2 linked regions of the Homo sapiens genome follow. The protein of the gene in region 2 interacts with the protein of the main gene of each other region in a pairwise test. Each region holds a gene or a part of one and is shown on either strand. Other genes may lie near its edges.

Evidence for each region.
Region 1: the proteins of IFT140 (region 2) and RANBP2 interact in a two-hybrid assay, tested with the Homo sapiens proteins (one large-scale study listed by BioGRID and IntAct).

What each region holds. Positions count from the first base shown.
Region 1 is NC_000002.12:108,764,349-108,768,164, reverse strand, and holds part of RANBP2 (E3 SUMO-protein ligase RanBP2), read right to left. Parts: coding exon 1-3,816. UniProt on the Homo sapiens protein: E3 SUMO-protein ligase which facilitates SUMO1 and SUMO2 conjugation by UBE2I. Involved in transport factor (Ran-GTP, karyopherin)-mediated protein import via the F-G repeat-containing domain which acts as a docking site for substrates.
Region 2 is NC_000016.10:1,581,041-1,584,856, reverse strand, and holds part of IFT140 (intraflagellar transport protein 140 homolog), read left to right. Parts: intron 1-436; coding exon 437-640; intron 641-1,470; coding exon 1,471-1,543; intron 1,544-3,816. UniProt on the Homo sapiens protein: Component of the IFT complex A (IFT-A), a complex required for retrograde ciliary transport and entry into cilia of G protein-coupled receptors (GPCRs).

The sequences.
Region 1 (3,816 bases), on a different chromosome or scaffold from region 2:
CCAGTGGCTGAACTGTTGCCGAATGCAAATGGTTTTGATTTTTCACTACTAAAAATGCTTTTAACAGACTCTGAACCAAATACAAACTTTGGAGGAGAAACCACTGCTTTTGGTGTTGTTTCAGATGTGCTAGACACTTCAACTTCTGAAGTTGCATCTGCTACATCATCACCCTGAATAACATCTGTCCTCTCTCTTGTGGTTTCTTCTAATACAGCTACAGCAATTTTGCCACATGGTGACTCTCTGGGAGTGCTTGACCGAGAAACATGAGGTGTTATCAAAGAATCTTTTTCCTGGGCTGTTTTTGCTTCATCAAAAATTTTCTTAAACGAGTCTGCAACATCCTGTAGTTTAAAACGAACAGCTAAATGCTCTACTTTTCTTTCTCCATCTGCAAAATCACATGCAGTCCACAACCATACTCTTTCTGTCCCTTTCATATTTTGCAAAGTCATGTCTGGAGTTATTCTGTGATTGGCACAAAGTTTTAATACTTGGTCCCTTCTCATCACTATACGAACTTGCTTATTATCATAATTCTGTAAAATCTTTATATCACCAATGCCCCTTTCTTTCCATTGACCAACATCTTTATCATATCTGTAGAGTTTTGCCCTGTGACTAAAAACAACTTGTTCATTTTCCTCACCACTGGATACTTCAACTAGATCAGGTAAAGGAACAACAGGTTCAAAGTACTGTCCATCTCTCTCTTCTTCTTGAGTAACATCAGATTCTTCATCAGTGCCAACTGAAGTCCCACTCTGATTCAACTTGGCAGGAGACTTAGATGGACTCAAAGCAGATTTAAAACTGAAGTTAAATCCTGTTGTTGACTCACCAAAACGGAAAAGATTTTTTCTCACAGGGCTACTTGCCAATGGAGAAGCATGTACTGAGCTACTACTGACACTATCATCCAAAGCATCTTCCCTTAAATCATAGTTATCCCATTCTAATGTGGGCCCAGTGTTTTCAGGATTGGGTTTTATTGTTGTGTCTGAGGCACCGGCCGCACCTGTACCTGAACCCTTATTTTCTTCCTCAGTGACTTTTGTTTGATCATTTGTCAAAAATGTTTTGAAATCTTTCAGTCCACTCTTCATTTCTTCAGCTCTCTGTATTAACTTGGCAGCTCTGCCAGTATCTACAAGTTTATGGGGAGTTTGAAGTGGTATGTCTAACAGAAGCCGCTGGCATTCCTCAAATTTCTGCTTGAATTCTTCAGCCAGCTCTGGTGTTTTAAATTTTGCTGCCAACTGCTCTAGTTTGGCATCACCATCAGAGAAATCACTGGCTAACCACATCCATGCTCTATCTGATCCAGAGAGAGGCTTCAGGTTCATCGTAGTCGTTATCCAATGATTAGCACACACTTTTAGTACTTGTTCTCTTCGCATCAGCATTCTTAGTTTGCCATTGACCTCGTTTTTGAGAATTTTTAAGTTCCCCAAGCCCCTTTCTTTCCACTGACTTACCTCAGCATCAAATCTAAATAGTTTTACCCGCTGTGAATACAGAACTTTTTCATCTTCTTCTCCTGTTACAAGTTCTACTTTTTCGGGCATTTGAACTACTGGTTCAAAATGGATGTCATCGCTGTCCTCAGTCTTATAGGCATCATCATCTTTCTCAAAGTCACCGGAAGTGTTTGCTTTATTGGCCATTTTACCGTATTGTGATGAGAATAATTTTTCTCCAGCACCTGAAAATCCCTTGAAATTGGGGTCTTTTTTGCCAAACTGAAATCCTTCTCCTGAAGTTGATTTTGCAAGATCTGCAAATGTAAAAGTGCTACTTGTTTGGCCAAAAATCACACCACGGCCATTCTTCTGGCCACTAATATCCTGAGCCTGGAAGCCAGTACCATTTTCAAGAGGCTTTTCACTTTTCTTTTCTTGATTTCCTGGTTCCGAAATGCCAAATTTAAATCCATCAGCAGACACAGGGATGGAAAATCCTTCTTTGGTTGACTTAAATTCTGTATTAGAAGAACCCTGAAACATAAATGAAGGTGAATTTTCTTGATCCACATGCCCAAATTTGAATCCTTGCTCTGTATTGCCAAACTTAGAAGCTTTTTCTGAGAAATTACTTTTAAATCCTGTTCCCACCTGACTTCCAGAAGAGTCATGCAACTTCATTTCTGAGCCCAGTGTGAAAGCTGAAGGAGCTTCTGCAATAGGTTTATGAGTTGGTTTAGAGGCATCACAAGCCACACATTTTAAGGAAGAACTCTCATTTTGTACACAGCAAACACTACAATCCCACTGTCCTTTCCTGATGAACATTCCTTCAAATCCACTCTTTGGAGCCTTGCTTATCTCCGAAGAGGCAGGTGTTGAAATTGCAGTTGTTTGATTTTGTTTACTTGGACACTGACAAGCAATACATTTGGTAGCACTGGCTTCATTTCTTACTAAGCACACACTGCAATCCCACTGTCCTTCCTTCTTAGTGAACATTCCCTCAAATCCGCTCTTTGGAGCCTTGCTTGTCTCTGAAGAGGCAGGTGTTGAAACTGCAGAAGTAGTTTGATTTTGTTTACCTGGATTCTGACAAGCAATACATTTGGTAGCACTGGCTTCATTTCTTACTAAGCACACACTGCAATCCCACTGTCCCTCCTTCTTAGTGAACATTCCCTCAAATCCGCTCTTTGGAGCCTTGCTTGTCTCTGAAGAGGCAGGTGTTGAAACTGCAGAAGTAGTTTGATTTTGTTTACCTGGATTCTGACAAGCAATACATTTGGTAGCACTGGCTTCATTTCTTACTAAGCACACACTGCAATCCCACTGTCCCTCCTTCTTAGTGAACATTCCCTCAAATCCGCTCTTTGGAGCCTTGCTTGTCTCTGAAGTACCAAACTTAAAAGAGGCAGGAGCTGGAACAGAAGTAGATGGACTTGGTTTATCCGGATTCTGACAAGCAACACATCTTGTAGCATTTGCTTCATTTCGCACTAAGCATGAACTGCAATCCCACTGTCCTTCCTTCTTAGCAAACATGTCTTCAAATCCACTTTTTAGAGTTTTACTTGTCTCTGAAGTACCAAACTTAAAAGAGGCAGGTGTTGGAATAGAAGTAGCAGGTAGACTCTGTTTTCTCGGATTCTGACAAGCAGCACATTTTGTAGAGCTCCCCTCATTTTGTACCAAACATGCACTGCAATCCCACTGTCCTTCCTTTGTAGAAAAAACAGATCTGAAATCACTGTTAATAGGTTTAGGAAGATCTCCCTGGCCAAATTTAAATGAAGCTTGATGAACAAATGAAGATCCACTTTTGTTAGCAGATTTTGTATTCTGACACGCAATGCACCTAGATACAGTAGGTTCATTTCTTACTAAACAAATACTACAATCCCAGTGACCTTCTTTCTTTGGAGTCACCAATGCAAATCGATCTTGAACATTCTCTGGGCTGGTTTTAGGAGTAAAAACAGTTTCAGCTAATGGTGGGCCAACGAGCTCTTTATTGCTTGGGTTTAGATTTTGGCATGATACACATTTCTTAGCAGTTGAAGCATTCTTTAATGAGCAGCTGTTACAATGCCACCAAGACCCTTCTTTCTTTGCAACCTGAAATTCAAAATTCAGGTTTCCAGCATCAGATTTGCAAATATCCTTGTTATCATGACTTGTGGGTTCTTTTACAATTCTGACAGCCTGATTTGACGCCATGGCTACATTTGTTCCTGGGGCTTTTAAAATGCTCTGGGCTTCTTCAAACTTGCATTTAAAAAGTGCTGCTTCCTCAGGAGTTTTGAACCTAATAGCAAGTTGTTCTGGTTTTGGCAACTCATCTGCATAA
Region 2 (3,816 bases):
GATAGATTTAGAAGTTTAATATAAAATTATGAAACCAACATTTCACATCAGCAGAAGAAAGCTGGATAATTTAATCCATTATGTAAACTTCCTGTCTGTTTATAAAAAACATAAACATCCCTATGTCACACTCAGAAAAGTGTGTCCCACTCAGAAAAACTCTAGAAAACGCTCTTCCCATCAGAACAGACATACCAGTGCTGCCTGTCCAATCACAACCCTTGAGCATCAGTATCTTGAAGTCTTTCTACACAGCATACTCTTTACCTTTATAAGACTTTTCTTATAATGTCTTATAAGATCATTTTTTAAGTCCGGAACAATGGTACTTGGAAATGGTTTCTGAGTTCTCGTGTGTGTAAGTATTCTCCTGACCGCATCTTTCTCCTGCTCTGTTCACACATCTGGTTCTTTCTCTTGCAACCTGGAAATGAAGTGGGGTTCCAGGAAGAACCTGCTGGCAGTGAACAGCGTCATCTCCGTGGCCATCCTCAGCGAGCGGGCCATGTCGTCACACTTCCACCAGCAAGTGGCCGCCATGCAGGTCTCCCCGAGTCTGCTGAATGTGTGCTTCCTGTCCACGGGGGTCGCACACAGCCTGCGCACCGACATGCACATCAGTGGAGTGTTTGCCACCAAGGTGACTGCCGAGGGGACCCGTGGGTGGGACACAGACAGAAGAACTGCCCCATGGCCAGGTAGTTCAGGGCAGCAAGGGCCCCAGATGGCAGGTTAGGCCACTCTCAGTTCCATCCTAGATTCTCTTATTTCCTGGATATCCATGTACATTATATTCATAAAGAAAATCGTAATAAGAATATAGGCCAGGCACGGTGGCTGACGCCTGTAATCCCAGCGCTTTGGGAGGCTGAGGTGGGCAGATCACTTGAGGTCAGGAGTTCGAGACCAGCCTGGCCAAGATGCTAAAACTCCAAAATACAAAAATTAGCCAGGCGTCGGGGTGTATGCCTGTAATCCCAGCTACCTGGGAGGCTGAGGCAGGAGAATCGCTTGAACCCAGGAGGTGGAGGTTGCTGTGAGCTGAGATCGTGCCACTGCACTCCAGCCTGGACGACAGAGTGAGACCATGTCTCAAAAAAAAGAACATAATAATAAAAAATATATACACCTGCCATGTACCCTTATAAATTAAAAAAAATGTCAGTTAAACAATAAATTTAAAAAGTAAATAAAGGAAAGAGAGGGATACTTTCTTTGCCATTCCCCAAACCTAAAAAAAAAAGAAAAAAAAAAACAGAAAAGAATCATAATAAAACCCATGGATATCTTATATAACACGGAAAACAGCCTCAGCCTGTCCACAGAGGACCCAGTGATCTCATAGTCGTAGGATGATGGAGCAGCAGTGTTCAGAAGTGTTTAGAGGAGGCTTTCGAGGTGTGCAGTGGGGTGTACAGTTGCACCTCACTTTTCCCGCCCTTTGCCTCGAATGTCCGTGGTTCTTTTCAGGATGCTGTCGCAGTCTGGAACGGAAGGCAGGTGGCGATCTTCGAGCTTTCTGGAGCCGCGATACGGAGTGCAGGTGGGTTCTTTTCACCCGGACAGAGGCACTCCCACTACCTGGCTTTATTTCCTCCCTGCCTAATGAGAGGGCCACTGTGGTGCAGTTGAGGGCTGGCACAGGGGCTGGGGAGACCCTTGTGCTACTGCCTGCGCTTCCAGAGCCAGGGCTGCAGCTGTGGCCCCGTGCTGCCAGTGCATCCTGGGGCCTGCTGTGTGGGCGTAAACAACCACCGTGCTTTTGTGGGGTTCCTTCCAGGGAGGAGGTGGCTGCCTCCCATCTTCTGAAATGTTTCCAGACCATGCACAGCAGTGAGACCTGTGGTGTCTTGACCCAAGGCCAGCCTCTGTCTGAAACTTCAAGGTGGCTCCTCAGACATGCTCCGTTAATCTCAAACACCCTTCTAGGTCCCCAAGATCTCTCCAGCTCTCTGCGGTTAGTTTTGCCATTGTTGCCCAGGCTGGAGTGCAGTGGTGCAATCTCACCTCACTGCACCCTCCGCCTCCCGGGCTCAAGCAGTTGTCCTGCCTCAGTCTCCCCAGTAGCTGGGATTACAGGTGCGTGCCACCACACCCGGCTAATTTTTATATTTTAGTAGAGACGGGGTTTCAACATGTTGGCCAGGCTGGTCTCGAACTCCTGACCTCAGGTGATTTGCCTGCCTCGGCCTCCCAAAGTGGTGTGATTACAGGCGTGCGCCTCCGCGCCCGGCCTTGGCCATTGTTTTCTTCCTGCTCTCTTCAGCACATCTATGGGAGTTTCCTGAGGCAGCTGTAGCAAAGGACCACAAACTTGGTGGCTTCAGACAAAGATGTGGGAAATGTATTCTCCCATAGTTCTGGAGGCCAGAGGTCCCAAATCAGTTTCACTTTTCACTGGACAGAAGTGATCGCGTCAGCAGGGCCACGCTTCCTCTGCAGCCCCAGGGGAGAACCCGTTTCAGCTTCTGGTGGCTGCCAGCAGTCTTTGGCTTGTGGTCACAAACCTCCAGTCTCTGTCTCTCTGGTCACATTGCCCCTGGTCTGAAATCTGCCTCCCTCCCTCTTACAGGGACACTCGTGAGTGTATTTAGGGCCTACCTGGATAACTCAGTATAATCTCCCCATCCCAAGACCTTACCATCTTCTGCCATATAAAGTAATATTCACACATGCCAGGGAGCAGGACCTGGCATCTTTAGGGAACCTTTCCCAGCCCATTGCAGTGGCCCCGCCACCAGGATGTGCAGCTCAGCTCCCCCCATTCCACAGTTATCACCTTCACCAACCCTGCCCCTCAGCCGCCTGCCCACACAGGAGGCCGCGTGTCATGCTCTTCCCAGGGCGGTTGCCCCCTCGTGTGTTTGAACGCCCCCACCTCTTCAGGCACATCCATCACTAGTTTCCGCCTCTCCCTCAGATCTTTCCCACATTTTTTTTTCTCTGCTAACACTTTGTTGCTTAAAGTTCTCTCATAACATTTTTCACACTCTGTCCAGGATTGTACCGACACTTCACATCCCCTCTCCTCCCCTCCCCTCCACTCCCATCCCCTCCACTCCCCTCCCCTCCCCTCCGCTCCCCTCCCCTCCCCACCCCCCGCTCCCCTCCCCTCCCCCGCTCCTCCCCTCCCCTCTCCTCTGTAGACTCCCTAGGAGCAAGGGTGAACTTCTTATTTCCCCCAGTAGAACCAACACAGCAGGTGCTGGGATATTTTTTGTTTTGTGTATATTATCATCTCCCTAACTAGATTCTTTCTGAGACAGTCTTGCTGTGTCACCCAGGCTGGAGTGCAGTGGTGTGATGGCGGCTCACTGCAGCCTCCATCTCCTGGGCTCAAGCGATTCTCATGCCTCAGCCTCCCAAGTAGGTGGGATTACAGGCATGCACCACAACACCTGGCCAATTTTTGTATTTTTAGTAGAGACAACATTCCACGATGTTGGCCAGGCTGGTTTCAAACTCCTGACCTCATGTGATCCACCTGCTTCAGCCTCCCTAAATGCTGGGATTACAGGTGTGAGCCACCAGGCCCGCCTCTAGATTCTTATCTATTATGTTGCTGCAAAAGTAATTGTGGTTGATGGCAAAAACTGCTTTTGCACCAACCCTAATAGTTAGGTCCAGGGACCAGGGCTTGTGGCCACCAGAGTTCCACCTAAAATGAGCAAACATTTGCTTAACTGGGTGTGTTGTCATAGATGCTGTGCTGCTGGGAGCACCAGCTGCCAGATGGGAGGGGTGAAGGGCAGGGAGCCCAGAGCCCAGCATGGAGTCTCCACATCAGCCCAGGACCCGCACGCACTGCCACTGCTA